4 linked regions of the Homo sapiens genome follow. The protein of the gene in region 1 interacts with the protein of each later gene in a pairwise test. Each region holds a gene or a part of one and is shown in the gene's direction. Other genes may lie near its edges.

The links.
Region 2: the proteins of NDUFAB1 (region 1) and ZNF19 interact in binary tests that used the Homo sapiens proteins (3 or more experiments, as listed by UniProt).
Region 3: the proteins of NDUFAB1 (region 1) and KCTD9 interact in binary tests that used the Homo sapiens proteins (3 or more experiments, as listed by UniProt).
Region 4: the proteins of NDUFAB1 (region 1) and SLIRP interact in binary tests that used the Homo sapiens proteins (3 or more experiments, as listed by UniProt).

What each region holds. Positions count from the first base shown.
Region 1 is NC_000016.10:23,580,220-23,586,749, reverse strand, and holds the end of NDUFAB1 (acyl carrier protein, mitochondrial precursor), read left to right. Parts: intron 1-1,326; coding exon 1,327-1,414; intron 1,415-4,374; coding exon 4,375-4,466; 3' UTR 4,467-4,474; intron 4,475-5,576; 3' UTR 5,577-5,736; downstream 5,737-6,530. UniProt on the Homo sapiens protein: Carrier of the growing fatty acid chain in fatty acid biosynthesis.
Region 2 is NC_000016.10:71,486,163-71,494,126, reverse strand, and holds the start of ZNF19 (zinc finger protein 19), read left to right. Parts: upstream 1-4,802; 5' UTR 4,803-4,855; intron 4,856-7,964. UniProt on the Homo sapiens protein: May be involved in transcriptional regulation.
Region 3 is NC_000008.11:25,426,971-25,434,697, reverse strand, and holds the end of KCTD9 (BTB/POZ domain-containing protein KCTD9), read left to right. Parts: intron 1-1,262; coding exon 1,263-1,368; intron 1,369-2,044; coding exon of another isoform or gene 2,045-2,060; coding exon 2,061-2,194; intron 2,195-4,724; coding exon 4,725-4,841; 3' UTR 4,842-6,851; downstream 6,852-7,727. UniProt on the Homo sapiens protein: Substrate-specific adapter of a BCR (BTB-CUL3-RBX1) E3 ubiquitin-protein ligase complex, which mediates the ubiquitination of target proteins, leading to their degradation by the proteasome.
Region 4 is NC_000014.9:77,702,830-77,711,438, forward strand, and holds the start of SLIRP (SRA stem-loop-interacting RNA-binding protein, mitochondrial isoform 1 precursor), read left to right. Parts: upstream 1-5,273; 5' UTR 5,274-5,282; coding exon 5,283-5,379; intron 5,380-7,725; exon of another isoform or gene 7,726-7,836; intron 7,837-8,008; coding exon 8,009-8,067; intron 8,068-8,609. Other genes in the region: nucleic acid dioxygenase ALKBH1, read right to left, coding at 1,540-1,648, 4,993-5,175. UniProt on the Homo sapiens protein: RNA-binding protein that acts as a nuclear receptor corepressor. Probably acts by binding the SRA RNA, and repressing the SRA-mediated nuclear receptor coactivation. Binds the STR7 loop of SRA RNA.

The sequences.
Region 1 (6,530 bases):
TTGAACCCGGGAGGTGGAGGTTGCAGTGAGCCGAGATAGCGTGATTGCAGTCCAGCCTAGGCAACAAGAGTGAAACTCCATCTCAAAAATAATAATAAATAATAAAAACACAAGTGGGGCCGGGCGTGGTAGCTCACGCCTGTAATCCCAGCACTTTGGGAGGCCGAGGCGAGTGGATCATGAGGTCAGGAAATGAAGAGCAGCCTGGCCAAGATGGTGAAACCCCATCTCTACTAAAAATACACAAATTAGACAGGCGTGGTGGCAGACACCTGTAATCCCAGCCACTCGGGAGGATGAGGCAGAGAATTGCTTGAACCCGGGAGGGAGAGGGTGCAGTGAGCCGAGATCATGCCACTGCACACTGCAGCCTGGATGACAGGGTGAAACTCCATCTAACAACGAAAAAAAATTGAATCTGTTGTGTAGGTAAGGCAGTTTTTTTTTTGATTTGGGTTTTTGAAGAATCATTCCTGGTGATCCTGAGGTCTAAATTAGAGTGATAGGGTGATAGTAAACACTTTGGCCAGGCGCAGTGGCTCACGCCTGTAATCCCAGCACTTTGGGAGGCCAAGGTGGGTGGATCACGAGGTCAGGGGTTCGAGACCAGCCTGACTAACATGGTGAAACCCCGTCTCTACTAAAAATACAAAAATTAGCTGGGCGTGGTGGTGCACGCCTATAATCCCAGCTACTCGGGAGTCTGAGGGGTGAGAATTGCTTGAACCCGGGAGGCCGAGTTTGCAGTGAGCCGAGATCGTGCCATTGCACTCCAGCCTGGGTGACAGAGCAAGACTTTCTCAAAAAACCAAAAAACAGACAACATTAGAGTGAAATCCTTCATTAGCTATGTATATATTGTTCACTTCAAAACAGAGTAAGATAAAGCAAACCATGTACATACTAGCATAGGTTACATATAAAATGTCAGTTATAGCCTCTGTATGTTAAAAAAAATTCGATGTAGTCACAAGGACAGAAAACCAAACACTGTGTGTTCTCGCTCATAGGTGGGAACTGAACAATGAGGTCACTTGGACAGAGGGTGGGGAGCATCATTTACCAGGGCCTGTCAAGGGGTAGGGGGTTTGGGGAGGGACAGCATTAGGAGAAATACCTAATGTAAATGATGAGTTGATGGGTGCAGCAAACCAACATGGCACATGTATACCTATGTAACAAACCTGCACGTTGTGCACATGTACCCTAAAACTTAAAGTATAATAAATTCAATATAGTGATTAAGTGGCATTGTACCACCCTGTTATCTTGGGAAGCAGATGCTTTCATGGACTAAATTTTGTGTTTGGTGCTCCTTTCTTGCAGCTTTCAGTAAATTCTCATTTTATGAAAGACCTGGGCTTAGACAGTTTGGACCAAGTGGAGATTATCATGGCCATGGAAGACGAATTTGGTAAGGCTCAGTCTTCTATCTACACACTGCGATTTTTGATTAAGGTGGATTAAACTGAAAGAAGTGGTGGGCGTCTGAATTGGAATTAGAATTAAATATTAATAGAAACAGTAGCATCCACTGCCCTTCACACACACCTTCCTGCCCACTTACCATCAGGTGAAGTAAGCTTTAGGGATGGTACATTTATTCAGAGAGCACCTTGCACAAGCCCAGCAGAGTGCCCAGTGTGGTGCCAAGAGCCGAATGACCAGAGATGGTTCCAGGGGACTGATTCTTCAGACAGGGTTCTAAGACAAAGGGCAAAAGCCTCCCCGGAACACATGCTGATGACATGTCAGCCCCTCCTGAGCTCGGGTAACGCGAACCAGGTAGAAGTAATGTGTGCCAGGACAAGAGACGCACCCAGAGCCTCTGGCCTTGGTCTCCTATCCTGGCTCACAAGCACACTCCAAGTTTGGGACTGTGTGTTGGGCAGGTGAGACCTTTATAAGGTTCCATGGCTGTTTCTGCGTGAGTTGGCTGAATAGGAAATCAAAGGACTTCTGTGCTGTTCTGCAGAGCAGGGCCTAGTTAAAATTCCTCACAGATGATGCTGACTAGGATGGAATCCCTTTGCCTAGTGCTTAAGAGTACCAGGTCTGGAATTGAGCTTAGTCAGGTATGAGCCTGGACAAGTAACTGTATCTCTCAAAGCCTGTTTCCTCAGCTGTAAAGTGGGGGTGATAATAGTAGGAACCCCAGGATTGGAATTGCTGTGAGAATTAGAGATGATGTGTAAAATGCTCAGCACAGTGTTTGGGCCAAAGTAAGCTAACTACCAAAACCCAGCCATTTATAAAAACCCAACCATCATAAAAAAAAAAATGCATGGGTGACGTGTGTTACAGCACACGAACCTTGAGAACGTGCCGAGTGAAAGAAGCCAGACACAGAAGATGACACGTTATATACCATTTACATGAAATGTCAAGAAGAGGCAAATCCAGAGATAGAAAGTACACGGGTGGTTGCCAGAGCTAGGGAGGATGGGGAGTGACTGCTGACGGGCACTGGGTTTCTTTTTTTTTTTTTTTTTTTAATTGATCATTCTTGGGTGTTTCTCGCAGAGGGGGATTTGGCAGGGTCATAGGACAATAGTGGAGGGAAGGTCAGCAGGTAAACAAGTGAACAAAGGTCTCTGGTTTTCCTAGGCAGAGGACCCTGGGGCCTTCCGCAGTGTTTGTGTCCCTGGGTACTTGAGATTAGGGAGTGGTGATGACTCTTAACAAGCATGCTGCCTTCAAGTATCTGTTTAACAAAGCACATCTTGCACCACCCTTAATCCATTTAACCCTGAGTGGACACAGCACATGTTTCAGAGAGCACCGGGTTGGGGGTAAGGTCATAGATCAACAGCATCCCAAGGCAGAAGAATTTTTCTTAGTACAGAACAAAATGGAGTCTCCTATGTCTACTTCTTTCTACACAGACACAGCAACAATCTGATTTCTCTATCTTTTCCCCACATTTCCCCCTTTTCTATTCGAAACAACCGCCATCGTCATCATGGCCCGTTCTCAATGAGCTGTTGGGTACACCTCCCTGACGGGGCGGCTGCCGGGCGGAGACGCTCCTCACTTCCCAGACGGGGCGGCTGCCGGGCAGAGGGGCTCCTCACTTCTCAGACGGGGCGGCTGCCGGGCGGAGGGGCTCCTCACTTCTCAGACGGGGCGGCTGCCGGGCGGAGGGGCTCCTCACTTCTCAGAGGGGGCAGCCGGGCAGAGACGCTCCTCACCTCCCAGATGGGGTCGCGGCCGGGCAGAGGCGCTCCTCACATCCCAGACGGGGCAGTGGGGCAGAGGCGCTCCCCACATCTCAGACGATGGGTGGCCGGGCAGAGACGCTCCTCACTTCCTAGACGGGATGGTGGCCGGGAAGAGGCGCTCCTCACTTCCCAGACTGGGCAGCCGGGCAGAGGCGCTCCCCACATCTCAGACGATGGGTGGCCGGGCAGAGACGCTCCTCACTTCCTAGACAGGATGGCGGCCGGGAAGGGGCGCTCCTCACTTCCCAGACTGGGCAGCCGGGCAGAGGGGCTCCTCACATCCCAGACGATGGGCGGCCAGGCAGAGGCTGCAATCTCGGCACTTTGGGAGGCCAAGGCAGGCAGCTGGGAGGTGGAGGTTGTAGCTAGCCGAGATCACGCCACTGCACTCCAGCCTGGGCAACATTGTGCACTGAGTGAACGAGACTCCATCTGCAATCCCGGCACCTCGGGAGGCCGAGGCTGGCAGATCACTCGCGGTTAGGAGCTGGAGACCAGCCCAGCCAACACAGCGAAACCCTGTCTCCACCAAAAAAATACGAAAACCAGTCAGGCGTGGCGGCGCGTGCCTGCAATCGCAGGCACTGGGCAGGCCGAGGCAGGAGAATCAGGCAGGGAGGTTGCAGTGAGCAGAGATGGCGGCAGTACAGTCCAGCTTCGGCTCGGCATCAGAGGGAGACCATGGAAAGAGAGGGAGAGGGAGAGGGAGAGGGAGACCGTGGGAAGAGGGAGAGGGAGAGGGAGACCTTGGGGAGAGGGAGAGGGAGAGGGAGACCGTGGGAAGAGGGAGAGGGAGAGGGAGACCGTGGGGAGAGGGAGAGGGAGCTGGGTTTCTTTTACACAATGGTGATGGTTGCACAATGTGAATATACTAAAAACTACCAAATTATATGGTATATACAAGGAGGAATTTTCTATTATGTGAATTCTATCTCAACAAACAAACAAACAAACAAACAAACATACCTCCAAAGCATCGTACCCAACCTGTATGCATACTGTCTAGAAGCTAACTGGCCCACAACCTATATGGGATTCAAGGTTGCTGAAAGTTTTGATATACTTGTAGCTGTTGTAGAAGGGTCAGGTGTGTTCAGTTCTAAAGGATTTTTTTTTTTTAACTCTCTCACATTGTTGTATATTTTTCTTTTAGGGTTTGAAATTCCTGATATAGATGCTGAAAAGTTAATGTGTCCACAAGAAATTGTAGATTACATTGCAGATAAGAAGGATGTATATGAATAAAGTATCAGGTAAATAGACTTAAAAAATGATGTTCACCCATAGATTTGTCTGTGGTTCTTCAATAAAGGAAACTTAAGAAGAAACAGAAAATGGAAATGCTTGACCAAGATTTTTCACTACTTATAAAATGCAAGCCCTTTCCTGTTGTCTGCCACTCAAAGGGGCCCAGCCCTGGTGGTGATCTTTGAGAGGTTGAGAACTGTCATTCCTGGATAGAACTCCCTTGATTGTCAGCTGTCCTCACAAAAGCAGAACATTGTACAAAGTACTGAACAGGGTAACCTGGAAACAGACCTCTGTCTCCCTCAATTACTCAGCCAAGGTAAGCCCAGCCTGCTGGGTAAGACACTGAAGTGACCTGGCTCTTAAGTAGGCAAGAGAGGCCTCATGTATAAGAGGATGGACTTTGGAGTCAGAGACACCCAAGTTTATTCTCAGCTTTGCCACACACTATAAGCCTGGTGGTCTCAGGCAGGCTGCTTAGCTCTGTAAGCCTCAGTTTCCTCATATGTAATATGGTGGTAATGATAGGACCTACCTGGGGCTTTTGTGAAAGCAAAATTGAAGAGAGTATATATATCACTTGATATAATGATGTAAAGAAGCCTCTCAGTAAATAGTAGCTTTTGTTACTTGGGACCTAGAATAATCAAATAAGACTTTTTGAATTAAAACATTGTATTAGTGTTTTTAGTCTTTAGCTTTTAGTGACCCTGCATTTTTTTTTTTTTTTTTTTAAAGATGGAACCTTGCTCTGTTGCCCAGGCTGGAGTGTAGTGGCACAATCTCGGCTCACTGCAACCTCCGCCTCCTGGGTTCAAGCAATTCTCCGGCCTCAGCCTCCTGAGTAACTGGGATTACAGGCGTGCACCTCCACGCCCAGCTAATTTTTATATTTTTAGTAGAGATGGGGTTTCACCATGTTGGCCAGGCTGGTCTCGAACTCCTGACCTCAGGTGATCCGCCCAGCTTGGCCTCCCAAAGTGCTGAGATTACGGGCATGAGCCACTGCACTCAGCCAGAGGCTGCATTTTTAGCACCTGAAAGATGTCACTTATCATTAGTAAGAATACATCAAAAATAACATTGAACTTATTTTGTCTTTTCCAGACCCTTTGGCTTTGCTGAGAGAGGACTCAGATGATAGTGACGAATGTCTGGCAGTGAGGACACATTTTGGCATTCTTGCTGACTCTGACAGAGTGATTCTGATGGACTTGTATTTAAATTGTATGTGTTTTACTCTTTGAAAATAAATCTATAAAACCAACATTTTCCCCCATCTTCAGTTTTTCAATGATGTCTATAAAGTGCTTTTTTATGTTTGTATACTGACATTGCTTAATATTTTTAAAGGTCTGATTTGTCATTTGTATTCATGCATGTCAAAAACAATGGCTTCCCCAGCCATGTACTTGAAGTAAGGCTGTCTCCCCACCTTCGTATCAGGAGTGAATATATTCATGGAAATGGACTTTTTGCTTCAAAAAAAACTTTGTTTTGGTTTCCATTAGCTTATTATCAGATGTGTCAGCTGATATCAGCAGGTGGGACTAGTTTTTCATCACTGTCCTAAAGATCCCTTTTAATACAGTTTAACAGTTTTGGAGAATGGGAGGCTCTCTTTCCTCCTGGAAGGTCAGTTTGACATTGCCACACATCAAACCACAGTTTGATTTGTCACACATCATTATTGGTTCTGCCCCTTTTACTCTTAGCACTGTGTTGGTTCCTTGGGGTTGATGTAAATAACATGTATGCATTGCTTAGCTCTTGAAGAGTTTAGTTTGAGAGTTACATCAAAATAATTCCTCTCCTTTTACTGACTTTCTAGTATGGGGAAGGAAGAGGAACCAAAGGCCTACAGTAAGTAGTGTCTTTGAGGCAGAGGGACTAAGGTGAGGGGCCCTCAGCCAGCAGAGAATCTCATGGCTGAGAGATGAGGTGGTCGAAGGATGGGAGTCAGCTCTGGGATTGGGTCCACACTCACATCTGCTTCCCTTCCTGCAGGTACCAATACGCTGGTTCCTTCTGGGTTGCTCTAGAGTTATTCCAGGCATGTTA
Region 2 (7,964 bases), about 48 Mb from region 1:
GTCAGGAGATCGAGACCATCCTGGCTAACACAGTGAAACCCCATCTCTACTAAAAATACAAAAAATTAGCCGGGCGTGCTGGCGGGTGCCTGTAGTCCCAGCTACTCGGGAGGCTGAGGCAGGAGGATGGCATGAACCTGGGAGGCGGAGCTTGCAGTGAGCCGAGATTGCGCCACTGCACTCCGTCATGGGCGACACAGCGAGACTCTGTCTCAAAAAACAAAACAAAACCCTGCTGGTTTGACACAGTTGAACTCCCATTCCATAAAACCCTACTTCTGTATCTTCCAAGATTCCACATCCTCTCTTAATTTGAACCTATGTCATGAGAGGTTTCCTCCTAAAATGTCATTGCTTTCTAGGGTTCCTTCCTTAACCCACTGCTTTCATCAGTGGTGCTCAAACATTAATGTGTGTCATAATCATCCAGGGGACATGTGAAAAATACAGAAACTTAGGCCCCTATTCTATTTAAATGAACCATCTGGGCCTTTGAACTTGTAACCGAAGGCAGGTCTGGCCGCTTGCTGCTTGCAGAATCCAATAACAAGAGCGAGCTATGATAGAAAGAAAGTGACATTATTCTTTACCAAAACTTGCAGTGGGGAAGTGGCTGGATTCACATCCAAGGTAACCACTTCAAATTTTAGGCTGAGGAGAAGGGCTTAAAAAAGGGAACTTGGAATGGGAGGCATGTGAGAGGGGTACTGAGTACAAGGTCTACGTGTCTTGTTCCAGTGGCTATCTTGAGCTGTGGTCCACTTAGAGTGTGGGCTGGCATCATCTCAACAATGGCCAGGTTATTTTCTAACTGCCTTGAATTTCTGGAATTTTGCAGCTGGGTCCCTATGCTTGGTCTGTTTCAAGATTAGCCCCTGGAATTTCTAAGTAATCACATAATTAGATACCAGCATATAGTTAGATAAAAATGTGCATGGTGTAAGGAAGTGTATGGTAAGAAAGGGAGGGACGTGGTGTTTCAAAGAAAGTAAATTTCAAGGCTGTACTTTAAGACTAAGGAGAAGAAAACAATGATATATGCAGTAAGCTTCAAGGTTATATCTTGAGACTAGGGAAAAAACAGAAAAAAGAAAAAAGGTTTTAAAATGCATTTTCAGGCTAGGCTGTTTGGTTACAAATTCTCTGTTGGCTCATTGTGATCCCATCTGGTCTTACATCTTTATCCACCCATATCACTACCTCTGCCCTGCACTTTCCCCTGGGCTTCAGATGACATGTCCAACTAGATGTATTTCCATGCAGACACCAAAAACTCATTATTGCTTGTCCGCCTCTCCCCCTGAAACCTCACCACCTACTCAGTTACCCCAGGCAAAACCCAGTATAATTTTAGCCTTCCTCCTCTGATTCACCAAATAATTAGAGTTACAATTCTCATAATGGTTCACATTTATTGAGTGTGATGTAGAACAAGTGTACTCTCATATGCTGCTACTAAACAGGAAATTGGTACAAGCACACTGAAAAACTGCATTTTACACGGAGACTTCAGAGACATATTGTTAAATGCAGCGTAAGGACCTTGTTTAGGTCATGATTAGAATAAACCACCTGTAAAAAGACATTTTTGAGACAATCAGGGAAAATGGATTATGGCTGGGTATTAAAGGATATTAAGAATTGTTATTAGCTGGGCATGGTGGCTCATGCCTGTAATCCCAGCACTTTGGGAGGCTGAGGCAGAGGATCTCTTGAGCCCAGGAGTTCAAGACCAGCCTGGGCAACATAGCAAGGCCCCATCTCTAAAACATTAAAAAAGAAAAAATTATTAATAGTAATAAAGTTGTGTTATCTTTTTGCTTATACCACCTGGTCTGGTGGCAGTTATTGACTGAGGCGAAATGTATGATATCCAATGACTCAGCAAATTCACTCTTAAGTATGTTTAAGAAAGATAAGAGCTTATGTTCACCAGACGTGTGAAAATGTTTATTGCAGTTATTCATAAATAATCTTCAAGGTTATTCATAAGAGCCAAAAAGTAAAAAAAAAACTAAATGTCCATCACAGTAGATTTTTTTGGGTAAAAAAATGTGGTTTATTTAACAATGAACCATTAAACAATGATAAAAATGAATGAACTATAGTTATATCCAATAGATGAATCTCAAAGATATTATGTTAGATTAAAGAAATGAGCTGCATGGTTCTATTACAATATGATTCCATTTATATAAAGTTTAAAAACAGGTAAAGCTAAGGTGATGGAGGTCAGAATAGTGATTATTTTGGGGAGGCTATCAACTAGGAAGGGGTATAACAGAGAGGTTTTTGGGGTGCTGGGGACATTCTATATCTTGATCAGGTTGAAGTTACATATATAAATATTCATCAAGTTTTACACTTAAGATTTGTACTCTTTACTGAACTTAAATTATACCTTATCTGGGCACAGTGGCACATGCCTATATACCCAGCTATTTGAGAGGCTGATTGGGGAGAATCACTTGAGCTCAGAAGTGCAAATCCAGCCTGGGCAACATGGAGAGACCCCTACTCTAAAGAAAAAAAAAACTAAATAAAAATGAAACAATCAATTAATTAGAAATGTAGCGAATGTTTACAATAAGTTAGATATGAAAATAAATGATTTTCACATGTTGTTTAATCCTCTCAACAGCCTACAAAGTAGGTATTAATATTGTACCCATTTTATAGGTGAGAAAATTGAAGGCACAGAGAATCTAGGTAACTTGCCCCAAATCACAGTTAATAAATGGAGGCTTGGAAACATTAGTTTGGCTTAACATATTTCAACTTCTTCACTATGAGACACAGAACTACGTATCTGAGGCAGTGATAGAGTGCTTATGTGTGTATACTGAGGCCAAACTATCATGGTTTGAATTCTGGCTCTGCCACATAAGAGCTGTGCATGACTTTGAGCACGTTATTTAATCTTTCTGTGTTCAGTTTCCTCATCTGTAAAATGGGACTCGTGTCATCTTATATGGTTCTTTGGCCCTTATTTCAGAATTTGATGATTTTTCCTCTTACAGTTACTGTTGCTCTTCTCTCTCTCTCTTCCTGAAGGGACTGAGGTCAGAAAGCTTGTGTCCACGGTGTGAGAGCATAGAAAGGCGTATTGGGACTTGGAATACCACTTAGTATATTGTTCTGGAAAGCCAGTTTGACATGGTGGAAATAATCTAGGGTTTAAATCTTAACTCTGATACCTATTATATGCTGTGGCCTTACTGAAACTCTTTGAGTCTTGGTTTTCTCTTACTCATGATTCATTCTGCGTTGAGTGCTTGTATTATCTGTCCCACTCTCCCTTATAGTAAGGGAGTATAATCATATATGTCCAACTCTTTATTCATCAAAAAATGATTATTGATCATGAACTGTGTTATAAACACTATTCTAGAAACTCAGGATACAGTCATGGACAAGATAGAAAAGCCTCTTTCTTGAGGAGTTTACACTCTGCAGAAAGCCTGAGGGTTGCTCTTGAAGACCTGGATCATGGTCCCATTTGTCTGGACTTGTGTTGCTGAAGTCCCAACTGAACAGCAAGTCCAACTAGTCATCCTGGAAGTCCTCAGCTCATGATGAGCTAGCTATTTTAGCACTCTGATCTTCTAAGAACCAACCCTGAACTGCCACCAGGCTTTGCTTATACTATCTAGTCTGGTAGTAAAAAGTGTACAGATGCCCAAACCCACTGAGGTTTATAACCATTTTCAAAGGTTTTAATAAAAAGATTGAATACTGGATTAACTCCAGAGCCTATTCAGGCTCAATTCCTAAGCTATTAATAATCGCTAATATCTAGTGAGTGTAATAATTACTAATATCTAGTGAGTGTTTAGTATGTGCTAGACATTGTACTGATTTACATGTACTAACATCTAATCCTCACAACAATCCGGGGAATAAATACTATTATTATCCTAGTTTTAGAAATAAATGTGACACTTACAGGTTAAGTAATGCACCAAAGGTCACAGAGTGGTCCTTTGGCCTTTGAAACAAAGCATCCTGATGCCAGGCTGTGCTCCTTACCACTATGTCATACTGTTGTAAAGGAGATGGGACTAAGAAGCTCTAAGTCCCCAGTTTGTTTTGTAATTCTGTGACAGTGATCACAAACGTTTTGACAGTCCAGCAAAATCCTGGCCAGAGTTCTCTTTTGTGGACCCAGAAAGCCACAGGCACTAACACTTTAGAGCTATCTCTCTTAGCCCATATGCCCTGCGCTTTTGGCATTTTCTTTATCATTTAGAGGGGAAGGAGGGCAAGGGTCTGAGGAGCCTTGAATGGTGACTTGGACTCCAGGGGTAGTGGCAAACCATTGGAGGTTACAGTGCATGGAATTAAAGACAGCTTGAATGGTATAATCTGACTGGCTCATTTTACAGAAGACAAAAGCTGCTCAGAGACACAAGGGTCTTCCTCAATGGCCCGTGAGTGGCAGAGCTTGTGAAAGGAAGTTGATTCACTGCGAGTGAACCAGAACTCAGAAAGACCAGTAAGCAACCAGGAAACACCGGCCACCATCTAGGCCTGTGGTGATGGCGGTTTTATCACGAATTCCTTCCTGACAATCAACTGCTCCCGGGCAGAAGCGATCGCTTTCTTGACCCACCCAAATGGACAATGACCCAGGCGTGAGGTTCCTGAGGAGAGAAAAAAGTGTGTACAAGGAAAGGAAGAGGATGTCTCCCAATCGGAAACACCGAGATGCGGAAAAGTTGCACCGTAGAAAGAGCAGCCGTGCTCATGACGCACTTCTGGCCTCCAAGCGCCCCACAAGCGTGACGCACTTCCGGCCTCCTAACCGTTCTCGCTAGCGGTGCGCTTCTGGCCTGTTTTGAGTCCGCGCTCAAAGGTGCCAAAGTGCAAGGACCCACAGTTGGGCGGAGCTTGGGTTGGGAGTGAGACAGCATAGCAGTCCAGGCTGGTCCTTTGAGCGCAGCTCAAAGAAGGGGACGGGGAGGGCGTCACTATACAATTGTGGCCGGGTGGGACCTGGGCTGTTTGCTCTTGGAGGCTGTACAGCTGCAAGCTTTGCCGCTCACGAACTGGAGCTGGAGAAAGAGCCCCCCAAGGATGGGAGGATGACAGAAGTGTCTGCAGATGGCACTGCCTGGGCACCAGGAGAGGCAAGGACTCCAGCTGATTCCTACCTCCTAGGGAAGCCATCCCCACTCTTAGTTGGGGCCGGCTTAAGTCTTTAACCAAGGCTCTTGCAGTTGCAGTGTCTGTTTCTTTTGAAGAGGCAGATTTGGAGACCTGTGTCCAAACAAATGCCATTGTCCCATAGTGTTTTTATGTTTTTGTTAGTTTGTTTTGGTTTTTTTGAGACGAAGTCTCGCTCTTGTCACCCAGGCTGGAGTGCAATGGCACCATCTCTACTCACTGCAACCTCCGCCTCCCGAGTTCAAGTGATTCTCCTGCCTCAGCCTCCCGAGTAGCTGGGATTACAGGTGCCTGCCACCACACCCGGCTAATTTTTGTATTTTTAGTAGAGACGGGGTTTCACCATGTTGGTCAGACGGGTCTCAAACTCCTGACCTCAGGCGATCCGCCTGTCTCGGCCTCCCAAAGTGCTGGGATTACAGGCGTGAGCCACTGTGACCAGTCTGAACTCACTTTTAATTTTAGGAGCTTGTTTTGTAGATTCTTTGGGACTTCTTATACAGATAATCATGTTGCCTGCAGATAGTAACAGTTTTGTTCTGAGTTTCGAATCTGTGTGTCTTTCATTTCATTTCTTTTTCTTTTTCTTTTTTTTTTTTTTTTGAGATAGTCTCGTTCTGTCACCCAGGCTGGAGTGCAGTGGCATATTCTCAGCTTACTGCATCCTCCACCTCCCGGGTTCAAGCAATTCTCATGTCTCAGCCTCCTGAGTAGCTGGGATTACAGGCACACACCACCACACCTGGCTCATTTTTATATTTTTAGTAGAGATGCGATTTCTCCATGTTGGCCAGGCTGGTCTTGAACTCCTGGCCTCAAGCAATCCATCCACCTTGGCCTCCCAAAGTGCTGGGATTACAGGTGTGAGCCACTGTGTCTGACCTATGTGCCTTTTATTTCTTTTTCTGGCCTTGCTCTTGCTAAGACTCCCAATATGATGTTAAATAGTAGTGGTAAGAGCAGACATACCTGCCATGTTCCCAATCTTGGAGGGAAAGACATTCTGTCTTTCATCATTAAGTATGTTTGCAGCTGCAAGGAGAGAATAATATTGAATTATATGTCAGTATAGATACTGCAGCACAATATTTAGCTTAACTACATATTTTTTTGCAGCCAAGGCAAAAATGACTTTGTGCATGAAACTTAAGTTCCACCACAGCCTCAGCCTATTTGTGGCTGGGATTTTCAGACATATGGGAGAGAAGTTAGTATTTTCAAGTCAGGATTAAGTAACAGTAAATATGCCATGATCATACACCATACTCTGGGTATCATGATCTGATATTACTTATAGCTTCAGTTAAAGATACTGTAGGAGTTAGAGGGAGAGCTGGATAGTTAGGCTGTGAGGTGACCAGAAAGAAAGGTGGTTCCCATTGGAATCTAAGGAATGGTCAAAGCTTGAAAGTAATTATGTTTGATGGTAGAGATTGTGACAGACATGAGTATGAGTATTGTATTAGTCCGTTGTCACAGTGCTATACAGATATACCTGAGACTGGGTAATTTATGGAGAAAAGAGGTTTAATTGGCTAACAGTTCCACAGGCTGTACAGGAGGCATGGCTGGGGAGGCCTCAGGATACTTACAATCATGGTGGAAAGCAAAGGGGAAGCAGGCACAATCTTCACATGGCCAGCAGGAGAGAGACAGCAAAGGAGGAAGCGCAACACACTTCGAAACAACCAGATCACATGAGAACTCACTATCACGAGAACAGCAAGGGGGAAATCCGCCCCCATGATCCAATCACCTTCCACCATGTTCCTCCCCCAACACTGAAGATCATAATTCAACATGAGATTTGCCTGGGGACACAGAGCCAAAACATATCAAGTATACATTTCCTTAGAGGTGATACATTGGCTGGGAAGACAGGTCAGTGTGAATTAGCTATTATTATTAATGATCTTGAAAACTCTCTGGGAGACTTTCCAGACAAATGAGAGTGGAAATTTTCTTCCTTTCCACTCCCTGCAAAACAAAAATAAGTTATTCCCAACTCTTTTTGTTTTTAATTTTAGTGTTCCCATCTTCTGGCCAAGAATATACTCAACTCTTCACCAAGTAAACATACGGGTTCCCATGTTTCTAAAAACCGATAAAATTAACAATAGAGACTTGTTTTTGTTTTATATCCAGACTTAATGGTCATTTATGTAATGTAAATATCCAGAATAGGCAAATCTATAAAGAAAGTGGTTGTCTAGAATTGGGGGAAGAAGAGAGGTATGTACATGTGTGTCTATTAATTTTCTATTGCTGCTGTAACAAATTGCCATGAGTAGTGGCGTAAAACAACACTAATTTATCTTAGAGTTTTGGAGGTCAGAAATCCAAAATGGGTCCCACTGGTATAAATTCAGGATTTAGACTAAGGAGAGAATCTGTTTCCTTGCCTTTTTCATCTTCTGGAGGCCACCCACTTTCCTTGACCCTTGGCCCCTTCCTCCATCTTCAAAGCCAGTGAGGTTGGGCCAAGTCCTTCTTGTGCTGTCATTTTTGTGATTCTCTTTCAATTCCCTCTTTCACGTTCAAGAACTCTTATGATTACACTGGGCCCACCTGAATAATCCAAGATAATCATCTTTTTTTTTTTGACAGGGTCTCGCTTTGTTGCCCAGGCTGGAGTGCAGTGGCTCAATCAAGGCTCACTGCAGCCTTGACCTCCCAGGCTCAAGTGATCCTCCCAACTCAGCTAGTAGCTGGGACTACAGGCGTGTGCCCACACCTGGCCAATTTTTGTTCCTTTTTGGAATTTTTTTTTTTTTTTTTTCGGTAGAGACAGGGTTTTG
Region 3 (7,727 bases), on another chromosome or scaffold:
AATTACTCTAATTTGGGTTTTACTCATTAGCTGCAGCTTATTTTTCCATGAAGCTGTGTATCAGGGCGAGTAACAAAATCTACCAAATATGCATTTTAGTTACTTTCACTGTCCTTTATTCTGTCTTATCATGAAGGGTCAGGTTAGTAGCAAAACAGGAAAAAGACTAACATCAAAAAAACGTTTGAAGGACCTAATCTTTAAATAGTGAAATGTCGAGAGGCATCTTTGTTTGTGTTAAGGACAAAAAAAAAAAGATGTTTGTCAAAAACGCTTTGAGATAAATGAACATAATTTAAAACTCTTGGCTGCGTGTGGTGGATCATGCCTGTAAACCCAGCACTTTGGGGAGCAGAGGCAGGCAGATCACTTGAGGTCAAGACCATCTTAGCCAACATGGCGAAACCCCGTCTCTACTAAAAATACAAAAATTAGCCAGGCGTGGTGGTGCATGCCTGTAATTCAAGCTACTCAGGAGGCTGAGGCACGAGAATCACTTGAACTTGGGAGGCAGAGATTGCAGTGAGCTGAGACAGCACCACTGCACTCCATCCTGGGTGACGGAGTGAGACTTTGTCTCAAACAAAACAAAACAAAAAAATAAAGTCTTAAAACATATATTTTCTACCATTTTACTCTCTGCCCTGCATTATGCATTGTGATGTGCCTGCTCAGGGTTAATAATGTTTAGCCATGGTTGGTGCAGAAAGACCCAGCCAGCATCTTGTTAGTGTTTTCTAGCTAAATAATGCCTTTAAATGCTGGCTTTTGTATTCTGACCTCTGACTTGAGGGCAGTAGTAGCATCTTAGAATATCAAGAATTTCACTTAGAACATCAAGATTCCTACAGTAATAAGAAAATCCATACCCCTAACAAGTCTATGCCTTCCTTACCCATACATTTTGACTGTTTCATTGTCATGCATAGGTATGTTTATAAAAATAGAGATAGAGGTGTCAGAGTTCTGACTCACCCAACTTCTTTATCTAAACCGTTATGTTTCATGTAAAATGAGCATGCTATTGTTAATTTGCATTTATTTTTTAAAAAACAGTTCTTTAAAAAAATTTTTCTTTCAAATGTTCCCAGTTCTTACTGTATTTAATTAGAAAAGCCTTTATTGTAAACAGAAAATAAAATTGAGTATGAGTGTTTTGAGTTGAGCCTTTCCCTCTTTTCTATTTTTTTTCTTTTACTGTTTGAGCTAATTTGAACAAAATTATGAACCTTACAACCAGGACTTTTCTCTTTTCTTTGCAGTGTGCGAATCTCCAGGGAGTCAAGATGCTCTGTTCTAATGCAGAAGGAGCATCCCTGAAACTGTGTAATTTTGAGGATCCTTCTGGTCTTAAAGCCAATTTAGAAGGTGAGATCCTTTCTGTAAATACCTATTCTACGAAGGAAGCAGACTGTAAAGGAAAAAAGCCCTGGAAAATAATTGTTAAGGGTGAAACAGGATAGCTGTAGGGGATAGGTTTCTTCTGTCATCATATTTGGAGAACTTCCAAAGTGGTAAGAAACCTCCATTTGGTTTCAGTCAAATGCTAATCAAAATTGAGGACTCAGAAAAAATAAAACCTCAAATATTTAATAAGGTTTTAGTTGGAAAATTAAATATCAACATCTTAAACTTTCAAATGGAATAAAATATTCTTACACTGACCAAAAGGAAAAATTTCATTTGCATAAAGCCAGGGAGTTTTTAAAAATCATTTTTAGATTTAATGTATTGTTTCTTAATTTGTTACTATCTGTGACTGATCACTTTGTTTACTTGTATATTTAGGAGACTACTTCACTCCCTTATCATAAACCTGTAGAGGCATATTATGAAAGTGCTAACTATCATAAGACAGAACTAAATTTCTTCCCTCAAAAGTATTGTGAAAGCATTCTTTCATCAGTAAACTGTTTATATATATAAGTTCGTTGAGAGACAAGATTTTAGATTAATTTCCAAAAGTTAAAAGAGGCCTCCATTAAGTCATCTTGCAGTTCTGTTGAAGGTAGATAACTATATTTTTAAGTTAAACTACTCCCAGAATGTGTTCACTGTAGGTGCTAATCTGAAAGGTGTGGATATGGAAGGAAGTCAGATGACAGGAATTAACCTGAGAGTGGCTACCTTAAAAAATGCAAAGTTGAAGAACTGTAACCTCAGAGGAGCAACTCTGGCAGGAACTGATTTAGAGGTGAGTTCACCAACACTTTAAGAATTTTTATTACTCTAGACTTACTAAGCATCTCATGCAAAATTTATTGAAATCAAAACAAAGTAGTTGGCTGGTAAAACTGGATTGGAAGACTCATCTGACATTCAGTCTAAGTTGATTTCATTTCTCTCCTTTTCCTTGAGTTTTTCTCAAGTAAATAAGTTTGATAGATGTGTTATCTAATGTATTGCATTTTCCATAAAATTTAATTCCGAATAGAATTAAATGGGCTAGATTACTTCTTAAACTACTTGAGAAATTTAAATGATATCCAGGTTTGAAATCAGGTTCAGGAAAAGTCTATTTGAAATTGGAACCATATGTTTTTTGGTTTTCAGCTTGAGATTATAATTTTGCCTGGTCATCTTTTTCAAAGAATTATATTTGTATGTCTTCTTAATTTGCCAGTTTAGCTAGCAGACTTGATAGCTGTTGATAGGTCTATATCAGCACTATCCAATAGCACTTTGTGCAGGAGGGACATGTTCTATATCTGTGCTGTTCAGTATAGTAGCTACCACCCATATATAGCTATTGAGCGCTTGAGATTTGGCTAGTGCAAATGAGAAATTGATTTTTAAATTTTATTTAATTTTAATTCATTTAAATTTAAGTAGCCACATGTGGCTGGTAGCTATGAAATCTGGTATAAATTGGATAGCAGAGAACGGTATGTCAAAATTTAGCTTGCTGTTAATGTTTTTTCATAATATTTTTGCCTAGATATCTTGATAGCTCTCGGTAGCAGAGTAGCAGGCCCCTTTCAACTTCAAGGCAAAAAGAATTGGCCTAAGTATAATCCTATCACGAGCACAATTATTTATTGTTTGTTACATTACTTTCACCTAAGATTATATTTTTTTCCTTGGTTTTAGTACTGTGTACTCAGTGTGGCCTAGCAGCAAAAGCCTCCCTCTCTCTGATTGCAAAGACTGATCAGGTTGACTATTGAGGGGAGAGCTGCTGACATTTGTTCTCCTAACAGGTTACGTTTAGTCACCCTTCTCTCTAACCATTGTCCCCTATCATATCCAGGGACTTAAGTGGAATCTCTATCTTATTGCTCCGTGATCTCAAGACAAATTAAGAAATAGCTTCAAATTGCGGTGGTTACACTGTTCTGTACATCTGTCAAACTCACTGTATTATATACGTACCTTTGGGGCTTTAAAAAGAAGGGCAGTTCCTTGCTATAAAAATACTAGGGCTAGGGAATGGAAAAATCTATTACACAATTTGATTAAGTAAAATCTTTTCAGATTAAAAAAAAAGTCTTCCCCCCATCTCATTCCTTTTGTTGTTGTTGTTCTTGGATCATAGTAAAATTGTTTTGATAATATTTATTACTTTGGGGCCAGGCGCAGTGGCTCATGCCTGTAACCCCAGCATTTTGGGAGGCCAAGGTGGGCGAATCACTTGAGGTTAGGAGTTTGAGACCAGCCTGGCCAACATGGTGAAACCCCGTCTCTACTAAAAATAGAAAAAATTAGCCAGGCGTGGTGGTGAGTGCCTGTAACCCCAGCTACTCTGGAAGCTGAGGCAGGAGAATAGCTCGAATCCTGGAGGTGGAGGTTGCAGTGAGCCGAGATTGCACTCCAGCCTGGGCAACAAGAGCAAAACTCCGTTTCAAAAAAAAAATTGTGTGTGTGTGTGTGTGTGTGTGTGTGTGTGTGTATTTATTATGTTGGAATCCATTCTGTATTTTAAATCAGTGGTCCCCAACCTTTTTGGCACCAGGGACTGGTTTTGTGGAAGAAAATATTTTCACAGATCAGAGTCGGGGGCTGGTTTTGGGATGATTCAAGCGCGTTACATTTATTGTGCACTTTATTTCTACTAGTATTACATTGTAATACATAATGAAATAATTATATAACTCACCATAATGTAGAATCAGTGGGAGCCCTGAGTTTGTTTTCTTGCAACTAGACAGTCCCATCTGGGGGTGTTGGAGACAGTGACAGATCATCAGGCATTAGATTCTCATGAGGAGTACCCCACCTAGATCCCTCACATGTGCAGTTCACAATAGGGTTCACGCTCCTGTGCGAATCTAATGCCCCTGCTGATCTGACAGGAGGTGGAGCTCAGGCTGTAACTTGAGCCATACAGGGACTGGCTGTAAATACAGATGAAGCTTCATCTACTGGTGACCTCCTGCTGTGTGGCCTGATTCTTAACAGGCCATGGACCAGTATCAGTCTGTGGCCCAGGGGTTGGGGACCCCTGTTTTCAATGTCTCCTTATAAAATATGCAAGAACAAGGGACATGCTTCCTCTTTAACCTTTGTTTATACATATTTATGGTGATCAGCCTGAACTAGAGGTAACAAATAAAGATAGAAGAACATCTTAATTTAGGGTGGTGTATCATCAGTTTTCCGGAAATTAACTGAGTTTTATTGTATAAGAACATTTTCCTAATCTGCCCCAGAAATCATTTTGAGCAGAAATAGATAAGGCCTGAAATTTCCACATGAATTACATGAATATTGTTTTCATCTTGCAGAATTGTGATCTGTCTGGGTGTGATCTTCAAGAAGCCAACCTGAGAGGGTCCAACGTGAAGGGAGCTATATTTGAAGAGATGCTGACACCACTACACATGTCACAAAGTGTCAGATGAGAATTTTAGGGGCTGGAGGAAGATGTAAAAGATGAAAATGTTTTCCTTATCACTTTTCTTTCTCCACCCACTCAGTTGTCTAGAAGAAATAACACTGTAAGGAAATTTAAAAAAAAAACATTTAGAGGATTATGCTTGTTTTGAGTGGTGCATAAGGGAAAAAACTGACTTTTTTTCCATATTCTGATTTTTAACAGAAAAGCACTCATTTAATAGATGTAGGGAAACTAGATATTGCTGCCTTTTGAATGGGGTAGGGGGGTTTACCTGGTTTTATGACCAGGCATAGTATCTATTATATTTGCTTTTAAATAGGCATGATGTGGAAATACCATCTTGGTTTGAGATGCATTTGAGGATTTTAATTTATGGAAAGCACAACATATGCAATTATATTTATTGAATTCCTAGATGCAGTATGGATATTTAAATTGTTAAAACTTTATGAAAACTTGGAAAAGGTTGTTCAGGTTTATAAATAGCTTTAGTGATGCCTCCCCTCTTTAAATACCTGTCACACCGTATGAATATGGTGAGATCAGACTCCCTAAGACTCTTTTCAGGTTCATTTTTATAATGTTTACTTTTTAGGACAGAACAGTAGCTAAATTAAAGTAATATCCAGTTCTTACTGATTGAGACAGAGTGGAAAGAAAGACATCATTGTACATCACTGTCATTCCAAAGGTACAGTGTAACTCTGGATGGAGGAATAACTTACCTATCACTACAACACTTACAAATGAGAATTTCTCAGAATTTCATTCTAGGCAAGTTCCACTCAACACCAGATCAAGCAATTCTATCTATTTACACTATTAGCCTAGTTTTCTCATACAGTCATCACAAGCATAGGAAGATACTTCAAAACCAAAAAAACCAAGGTGCATCATTAATATTCATTTAATTCAAATACCAAATAGTTTACATAGGGCCAGCTTAGAAATAGATACTAAATCCAGAGCTACTGCAATCAAAGCTTATATGAGTGAATATGGTAGAGTTGCCTGCTAAAAGGCAATGTAATATAATTGCAGCTAGAACCCTACAGTGGGGAATGAGGAATTTTAAACACACATTTGATTACAGCCACCAAAAAAATAGACGTAAAAATAAAGGCATTTGGCTGGTCCAAGATGTAATTATCAATCAGTCAGCACCTGTGATTCTTTTACTTATTTTTTTGTGGTTTTTTTTTTTTAAACAAATTTTAGCCCAATTTTCTTGAGTCATTCTCTCTCTGCAGCAGCAGAGGAAGGGCCTGTACCTCCCTACCAATGACTTGGTGTCCTTATTTTCTACCCCAAGAGCAGGGATATTAGCTGTGTCCAAATGGGTTCTGAATTCTACAGACTCATCAACATGAGGCAAGGAATCATTGAAAACCACCTGTGTCTCCTTTGGGAGAATGACATATCTTTAGTATTTACGTAGCTTATTCTTCTATATCTACATATGCAAAGCTTTCCTTAACAGTAAAGGGTACATATGCATAGTGGGAGGAGATCAGACCTTTACAAGTGAAGGAAAGCAACTTCAGAAATGAATTATTTTCTTTGCTTTATTATTTTTACCAAGACAGAGAAGTATTGTATTGAGAGATAATCTATTTTCATAATCAATATGTGCCTAAATTATATTTAAATCATTTCACTCTGTACTATATTTTCAGGAATTACAGAATGTGGTATTCATTCACTTAAAGGTACCTCTGTAGAAATAACCTAAAACTGCAGAAGGATCTGAAAGATCTAAACATGGTGTGCTTAGAAACTGCAGATTTTAGATCTAATGTATACTGCATTAATAAATGATATAAAGTGTTTGTTGAAAAGGAGTTTCTTCTCTTCCTTTTGAAAATCATCACTTTCTGTATTTTGCTTACATTTCTTCAATATGTGTTGACAACCAGCCCTGTGGTTCTGGGTAGCAAAGGAAATACAGTATAACTTAATTTGTTATGGATTAGTCTTTTTGAAAGTACCATTAAAGTAAATTTATTTCTTTAAACATGATTATTTTTATCATTCTTTTAAAAATACACCATGCTAACAACACAAACCTTATGAATTCTGAACAAAAGAAAAGACTGCCTCCCCAATAATTCGTTTAATTTGTTTGTGTTAAATTCATCACTCTTTAGGTGATGAATATTACCAGTTAGCTTTATTAGACTGGATAAATAGCATGCCCCAAAACATTTTTTGCCTGATAACTAGGATAGAGAATTTTAAGGAGGGAAGAAACCGTTAAAATAGTAAAACTTCCATTAACCCTAGAGATGAAACATGTCTGTACACATAGGTAAAAATACAGCTGTTGGGATGACAGGAAAAAGGTTTTAAATCAAAATTAAACTAGCTGGATTATCTGCATTAATAAAATTTGGTACTCAACTAAGCAATACTATCTATTGTAGTCTAGTTCTTTCAACTATAGTCTCAAGGAAATTCTGGTAGAAAATGTTGTAAATTAATTATTCTTATGAAGGGTTCAATCATAAATCAAGACTTGGAATATTTTCTCCATTTCATTTTATGACTCTTATGTGTACTGTAAATCTGCCCTATGTCAACTTTAAATCATCTTTAATATATGGAAAAAACTTAGAATTGCACTAAGTAAGTCCCCAAGGAAGAATTACCTTTAAAATTAAAAGGTTCATTACTACAAAGAAAAGTGGTTACATTATTTCAGTATAAAGCACCTTATCCAAGGATTAATTCTCTGAAACCCTTTTACAACCTGATTAGACATGTCAGCAGGAGTTAACCTTAAGTGCTTCCTGCTGAGATTTTACATTAGGGCAAGAAAAGATTTTTTTCATCTGTCATTTCAGTGATATTATGAGATCATCGCTGTAATAATTTTGAGGTGTTTTGATGT
Region 4 (8,609 bases), on another chromosome or scaffold:
AGAGGCATGCCACCACACTTGGCTAATTAAAAACATTTTTTTTGGCCAGGTGAGGTGTCTCACGCCTGTAATCCTAGCACTCTGGGAGACCGAGGCGGGTGGATCACTTGATGTCAGGAGTTCGAAACCAGCTTGGCCAACATGAAACCCTGTCTCTACTAAAAATACAAAAATTAGCTGGGCGTGGTGGCATATACCTGTAGTCTCAGCTACTCGGGAGGCAGAAGAATCACTTGAACCTGGCAGGCGGAGGTTGCAGTGAGCTGAGATTGTGCCACTGTACTCCAGCCTGGGCGACAGAGTGAGACTGTCTGGGAAAAAAAAATTTTGTTTTGTAGAGACAGGGTCTTACTATGTTACCCGGGCTGGTCGCAAATTCCTGGGCTCAAATGATCCTCCCACCTTGGCCTTCTAAAGTGTTGGGATTATAGGTGTGAGACACCTCGCCTGGTCCCTATTAGGACTTTCTTTTTTTTTTTTTTGAGATGGAGTCTTGCTCTATTGCCCAGGCTGGAGTGCAGTGGCACAATCTCGGCTCAACAAGCTCTGCCTCCCGGGATCATGCCATTCTCCCACCTCAGCCTGCCGAGTAGCTGGGACTACAGGGGCCCGCCACCATGCCCGGCTAATTTTGTTTTTGTATTTTCAGTAGAGATGGGGTTTCACCTTGTTAGCCAGGATGGTCTCAATCTCCTGACCTCGTGATCCGCCCGCCTCGGCCTCCCAAAGTGTTGGGATTACAGGCGTGAGCTACTGCGTCCAGCTTTTTTTTTTTTTTTTTTTTTGAGACAGAGTTTCCCCCTTATTGCCTAGGCTGGAGTGCAATGGCGCGATCTTGGCTCACTGAAACCTCCACCTCCTGGGTTCAAGCGATTCTCCTGTCTCAGCCTCCCAAGTAGCTGGGATTACAGGCACGCACCACCATGCCCAGCTAATTTTTGTATTTTTAGTAGAGACGGGATTTCACCATGTTGGCCAGGCTCGTCTTGACCTCCTGACCTCAGGTGATCCACCCACCTTGGCATCTCAAAGTTCTGGGATTACAGGCATGAGCCACCACGCCTGGCGAGGACTTTTGATGTCATTAATTGTAATTCTTTATTAAATATGTTCAGCCTTGATAGCAACAAGTTTTAAGTTGTTATGCCATTTGAGAATGTGACTAGAGGGACAATTATGAATTATTCATAACTATTATGACATTTATTACAATGATAATGATAAATTATTCTTCACAGCACTTCTGCCAAATCAGATGTTCAGAGTTGTGGCAGGGAGCCCAGAGGCAATGTCCTTATTTTTTCAATGGTCATGCCACTTTCAGCCACATTTGCAGGCACTGCTGACTCCTGTTCTATCCTTTCAAAACGGACGTCTTAGACAAGGTACAGTCTAGAATGGGTTTGGAAATGAAACATTTATCTGTTTATTATGTGTATCCTTTGTCTATTTACTTGCTCACACACAGTACCTTCTTTGAAGACATGAAGACATAAATGATTGAGTGATATTGCCTTCTCTGAGGTCAGTTACACTCACCAGGATAGCCTTTGAGTCCATAGGCTTGCCACTTGCTGACGGGCTGAAGACCTGCTCTATATGCATTCTGCTCACTGACAGAAGACACATTTAGCTGAGATTTGATCACCTGGCAGGAAGGAAACAGAAGTTAAAGGACTAAATCTATTTTGCAGGTCAACCCCGGGAACCTCAAACCTCCAAACACATTTCTTGTATGAGGCAAAGCTAGGATTCTTGTTTAAGATACAGAACCTTGCTCTATTGCTCAGGCGAGTGCAGAGGCATGATCATAGTTCACTGCAGCCTCAAGCTCCTGAACTCAAGTGATCCTCCTGTGTTGGCCTCCCAAAGCAATGGGATTAGAGGTATATGCCACTGTGCCTGGCCAAAGCAAGGAGTATTAACTCTGGGGTTAATCTTAGCTGTACTGCTTACTTGATCTGGGCATTTTAGATGAGTCATTTAATGTCTTAGAGCCTCAGTTTCTCATCTATATAGTAACAGTAGAGTCACCCAAAATTAAGGCAAAATGGTAATAAGAAAACTTAAGCAGGCTAATTTTGGCTTTCAAAACTACTTTTTCCTATGACATCATACCTTTCCAACTTCTTATGGGGCTGAATCATGAAAGGTGCTTGGTGTACTGAAATATCTTGAGTCACAAAGCTATTTACTTCAGTTAGGGCTAACAGTAATGCTTTTGAGACACTTGTATAGAGTTGGTATTTAAACAGAGCTATAAGGAACACCAAGCTGGACAGGGTGAGAAAATGAAAAGAGAAGGCCGGTCGCAGTGGCTCACGCCTGTAATCCCAGCACTTTGGGAGGCTGAGGCAGGCGGATCACGAGGTCAGGAGTCCGAGACCAACCTGGCCAACATGGTGAAACCCCGTCTCTACTAAAAATACAAAAATTAGTTGGGTGTAGTGGCGGGCGCCTGAAATCCCAGCTACGAGAGGCTGGGGCACCAGAATTGCTTCAACCTGGGAGGTGAAAGTTGCAGTGAGCTGAGATTGTGCCACTGTACTCCAGCCTAGGAACAGAGCAAGACTCCGTCTAAGAAAAAAAAAAAAAAAAAAAAAGAGAATGAAAAGAGAGTGCTGTAAACAGACAGAAAAAATGTTGCAGTGAGACACTGGGAATCCTGTCTGCTAAAAGTAAAAGCTAAAAAATCCTGTTTGCCCTCTTCTAGATGAAATGTCCAACTGACGCTACAACTTCTGCTTCTGTTAATTACTTAGAAATGAATTTAGTATTTCAGGGGCTGAAGTTTTCTTTGTATGTGAGTATCTAATGGATGGCTCATTACATTGGTTAAGAGACCCACTATGCAGTCATTGAAGTCAAAACATTAAAGGAAAAAACCTTTATTCTTCCCTGAATAGTAAACCTAGGGTCTGCCTTGCCTTAAAATATATGAAACAGGCCGAGCGGTGGCTCACACCTGTAATTCCAACACTTTGGGAAGCCAAGGCAGGTAGATCACCTGAGGTCAGGAGTTTGGGTCCAGACTGGCCAACATGGCGAAACCCCGTCTCTACTAAAAATACAAAAATTAGCCAGGCATGGTGGCGCGTGCCTGTAGTCCCAGCTACTTGGGAGGCTGAAGCAGAAGAATCATTTGAACCTAGGAGATGGAGGTTGCAGTGAGCCAAGATCACGCCACTGCACTTCAGCCTGGGTGACACAGTGAGACGCTGTCTCAGTAAAAAAAAGTATATATATTATATATACACACACATATATACACACACACATATATATATATATGAAACATTCTCTTTGAAAGAGAATGATCTTTTATCTTATCAACTTCTCCAAGTGTGGAGATTCCTGGACAAAATACCAAAAGTTTGCTGATGTATAACCAGTCTCTATAATAAAAGGGCTATATGAAACCCTCTGACAGTACTATCAGCTGAGTTTTCCAGGTACCTAGGCACTGGTAAAACACTTTTAAGCATTTTGTCATGATTTCTTTAATAGGCCATACTTAATACTGCACTATAATTCAACACACTCTCAGAGGTGATGTTAGTGGACCTATTCTATCATATGCTAAACTGAACGACACCACTGAGCTTTTATAAAAGGTTTTCTCTTTCCTCCCTTGCCAGACTGTTAACCACCACTTTCCCCACCAGTCTCATCAGCTGGCTTGTAATAGTAACTTCTCTTAATTACTACTTTAATCTGCTTTGAGCTGAGGAACTAAACACCCAAGCTTTCATGTACTCAACACATACTGTACTTAGTACTGTTTTAGGTCCTGTACTAGACACATAATGGCTCATTCCCTGATGGCTGACATTCTAAAAAGCATGTACATATTATGGTAAAATGTAGGTAAAAGGAGCTGAATGAGAGTCTGAAGCGCTCTGGAGAGAAAAAGTATATTATTATTGGGGTGTGGACTTTCTGTATTTTGACAACTCTAAGACCACTTTTTTTCCCTAACAAATGAAGGTGCTGAAAAGCTGAGCTCAAGTATGCAATCATTAACACTTAATACTGTAGCATCCCAATTTTATCAGAGCTGTTAGGAAGCTTGGAAAGAATGCCTCATCTAGACATCTGTGGACAACACCAAGAGCAAATTAAGGGACTGCATATCCTCAACGTTAAAGTGGATTGTAAAGAAAGAAAATATAAATTGGACTACAGTTTTGGTTCCCCGTTTTCCCTCTTGCCTGTTATGTTCCCTTAAAAAAATAATTTTTAAAAAATCTATTTACTTGAGAACAGGTTATGAGACTGGCTAATTTTTTGTATTTTTGGCGGAAACGGGGGTCTTGCCATGCCCCAGGCTGGTCTCGAACCCCTGGGTTCAAGCGATCCACCCGCCTCGGCCTCCGAAGTGCGGGATTACAGGCTTGAGCCACCGCTCCCGGACTGTGTTCCCCTTCTTAATCTCCATGGGGAAAAGCTGAGAGAGAGAACGGTGCCTGTATTCCATATATACTTGTTTGCCATTTATTTTCAACACGGAGGGATTCTCAGAATCCTTCAATGACCTCCTTCTAAAAGAGCCAGAGGAGAAGACAGGGACTAGTTTTACGCACAGTGGCTTAACAAACAGCGCCGCATCCCTGTCAGTTCTGGGATTCCTCGGGAGTGGTTTTTTTTAAGCTGCAGAAGTCTACCCTACCGTCTACAAAGACGTTCTATGGGGTTTTACAAAAACCCAAACAGAAATGTGAGGAGACAGTTACAGTAAGAAATAAACACGGATTCCCAGGCTCTTTTGACTGAGCGCCCCCGCCAGGAATGGCCGCCTAAAGAAACAGGCATCTCAACGCTTTATTGCTAAGTGTGACGGTTAGTGGGGAGTTCGACTCTGCAGCCAAAGGAGGTCAGGAATCGTTCAATAACAATCGGTCTGGAGGTGAAAAGAGGCGAAGAAGACACGTAAGTCCCTCCAAGACGCGGGGCAAAGCGATGGAGAGACGCGCGCCACTCCTCTCTCTGTACCTTTTGGGCACCAGGACCCTTGCCACGGGCTGCGTGGGCCGCCGAGAAGTCGATGACCCCTTCCAGGTCTGCGGTCCCGGGCCGGCTCTGACGGTAGAAGCGGAAAAGTTTCCGAAAGGCGTCCTCCCCGGGCTCAGTCGCCAGAGTCGCCACAGAGCCCACGGCCGCTGCCATCTTCCCCATCTCGCGGCCTATACCCTCTGATCCGGAAGCAGATTCTCTCGTGTTCCGGATCCGGAAATTTTTTCCGGGGCCGCGACCTCGGCTCGAGAAGGTGCTTTAGTCTGAAGATGGCGGCCTCAGCAGCGAGAGGTGCTGCGGCGCTGCGTAGAAGTATCAATCAGCCGGTTGCTTTTGTGAGAAGAATTCCTTGGACTGCGGCGTCGAGTGAGTGATGGAGATGTGGGAGTAGTGGAATTTTTAGGTCCAAGTGATCCTCAAAGCTTCTGCTTTTTGCAGGGTACTTAAGTCAGCGTGGTGGCTGAATTAGGAGACTGCTCCTGAGCATGCAAGTGAGCAGAAAGAAATTTTGTTTGCAGTTAACCGTTTAGGGATGTCCCTTGAGCTTTTGGGGTCACGAATGCACCGGCTCTTGCCTTTAGGAGTGATTTGGTGTAAAGATTTATTACTTGGTAACCAAGATTTACAATTTAGAAGGGATAATTTTGACTGTAGTGTGGAGGATGGATTCAAGGTGGCAAGATTGTAGGCGTGCAGAGGAGCTAAAAGGCAATTTCATTAATTTACTTAAAACGTGAGGACCTGAATTAGGGCGATGGTAGAAGGATGGTGGTCAGATGCATTAATGTTTTAAAAGCAAATTAGATGCCGTTTCGTGATGGCTTAAGTGGGAGAAGTGTACGGAATAAAGGAAAGGGAGAAATGATTTCTGGGTTTTTAGCATTGGTGAATTGTTTGTTTAGAAGTTAGGAGCAGGCCAAGAGAAGATGAGTAAAGTTTGAATGTGTTGACTTTGAGAAACTTGTGAGGTTTCCGTCAGGCAATTGGACAAAGGTTGTATATCATTGTGGCTGAGAAGTGGACTCCGAAGCTAGACCGTTGGGGTTAGAATTCCAACTTGGCCATTTAATCGTTGTTATCACTTGAATAACTGAAGTTAGTATGGGAAAAGGGCTCACAACTGGGCCTCAGTTTACTCATCGATAAAATGGAGTCAATAATACCCAACTCATAGGATTGTTGAGAGGATTGAGTTTATATGCAAACTTCTTAGACTTGTGTTAGATACAGTGTAAGTACTCAGCAAATGATAGTTATTTTCACGGTAACTAAAATTGAAACTTACGGGAGAGGCCTAGTCTACAGATAAAGGTTGGAATAATTAGTTCTGAAATCTTTCACCACCTTCAATTTTTGTCAGCTGCAGTTTTGAGATGAGGTTTTTATATTTGCTTACCAACATGTAAACATTCGTGGTCACTCTTTTTGTAGATATTCATGTTTCAGGTCAACCCCTGGAAACAAAATGGAGCAAGATTTAGTTTCTTCTAAGTTTTTAGTGGCTCAGATGTGAGTAGTAGAATGGGAAATAGGTTGGTTTGTGCCCCGTGTTTTAAACATGTGGTTGGTGAAGACCAAGCCCAGTAAAGTCTCCCGTAGTCCCTGTGAAACTTTATGGAAAGGCTGAGGAGTTTCATTAGCATCTTGCGGATGCAAGTTTCCAGACAATAAAGGGCTAGTTTAAAACCCTTAAAAAGAGTCAGCATTATGTACAGCTTCGAAACAGTTTCTCTTTGTTGTTCCATTGATTCAGCAAATATTTATTTGAGTATCTATTCTGTGGTAGGCATTGTTCTTGGTGCTTGCAGCTGTTTTTCCTTCACCATTTTAGGCAATTTAGGAAGAGGGTTACCTTCCAGAGCTGGTTTGTTTTGAAATCAGTGTCTTCTAGGACTTTAATTATCTGGTATAAAACATATGTTTAACATTATTTTGTTCTCCAGTATCATATTCTGTGAGACCTTGATCTTGCCAGTTGGTTTGACTTAACCATTAGAGCCCTTCAAAATTTAGTCTCTGTGGATTGTTGGAAGGATTAGTGGACTTTTACTTATTCATTTAGCCAATATTGAGGCCCTGCTGTTTATTGGTCACTGTAAACATAGTGGTTTATATGCTGAGGGAGCTTACAATTAGTGGTGGGGATGAAGAGACTTAGAACAAATATAGGCAATTGTTGAACCAGTGAGGTTTTGGTGAACTAGGAGAACTAAATAGATATTATAAAAAGTAAATCAGTGAAGTACAAGCACTGTAGTTCAGAAGAGAAACAGATCGTGTAGTTTTTAGTCTTTAAGATTATATACTCTAAATCTTTGAAGTCTCACAGGGCTGGTACATTGTCTTGTACTGTGATAGGAGCCCAATAAAGTAATACTCAGTGGATGTACTTGGTTTGGGTCTTGAAGGATAGTTATAGTGTTACAAGTTAGCCAGGGGGAGATAGGATTACCAACATATGGAGGGGAGAGAACAACATATGCAAAGAGGGTAACCCGCAGGACAGATAAAGATAATTCAATTAGTTGTACTAGAGAGTAACTAGGGGCTAGCAGTGGGAAATAAGGCAGGAAGGGTAGGTGAGGGCAACTCAACACATTTTACTAAATTGTGAAAGACCAGTAAGTTGGGATTTTATTTGGAAATCTTCAGTATACCGGGAAACACACTGGATTGTAATTTGTCTTTTTCTTCATTGTGATCTGCTCACAGGGATCATAGTCCACATAGCACAGTAACTGGTATGAAAACACTCGATATTTGCTGAGGATGGAGACTGCAGCCAACTCAACAACTTCTCTGTCCATCTCACCACCAAGTCTGGTACATTATGGCTTTATAGTCAGTACCATAGCTGCTTCCTAAATCTTAAGCCTTTAAGGAAATGCAAAGTAGTTCCTGTCCACAAGAAATCTGGTGACCCTGTCTTTCTACAGTCTAAGATAGAGAATCCAAAATATAGTAACTACTTTTAATGTTTTCTTCTGCCACACAGGTCAGCTGAAAGAACACTTTGCACAGTTCGGCCATGTCAGAAGGTGCATTTTACCTTTTGTAAGTATTAAGGAAAAGTAGGTGGGAGGTGGGGATGGCTAATGGGTACAAAAAAAATAGAATGAATAAGACCTATTTGATAGTACAACAGGGTGACTATGGTCAATAATAATTGTACATTTTAAAATAACTCAGAGTGTAATTGGATTATTTGTAACTCAAAGGATAAATGCCTGAGGGGATGGATACCCCATAAGTCAAAGGATAAATGCTTGAGGGGATAGATACCCCATGCTCCATGATGTGCTTAATTTACATTGCATGCCTATATCAAAACATCTCATGTACTCCATAATAAATATACATATTTATATATATAAATATATAAATATATACACCTAATAATATATAAATATATATAAATATATACCCAAATAAATATATACACCTACTATACACTCACAAAAATTGTTGAAAAAAAAGCTTAAAGTGTTTTAAAAAATTCTTATCTTGCAACAGGGTCTCGCTCTGTCCCCCTGCAGGGGTGCAGTGGCCTGATCTCACTGCAGCCTCTGCCTCCCAGGCTTAAGTGATCTTCCTGC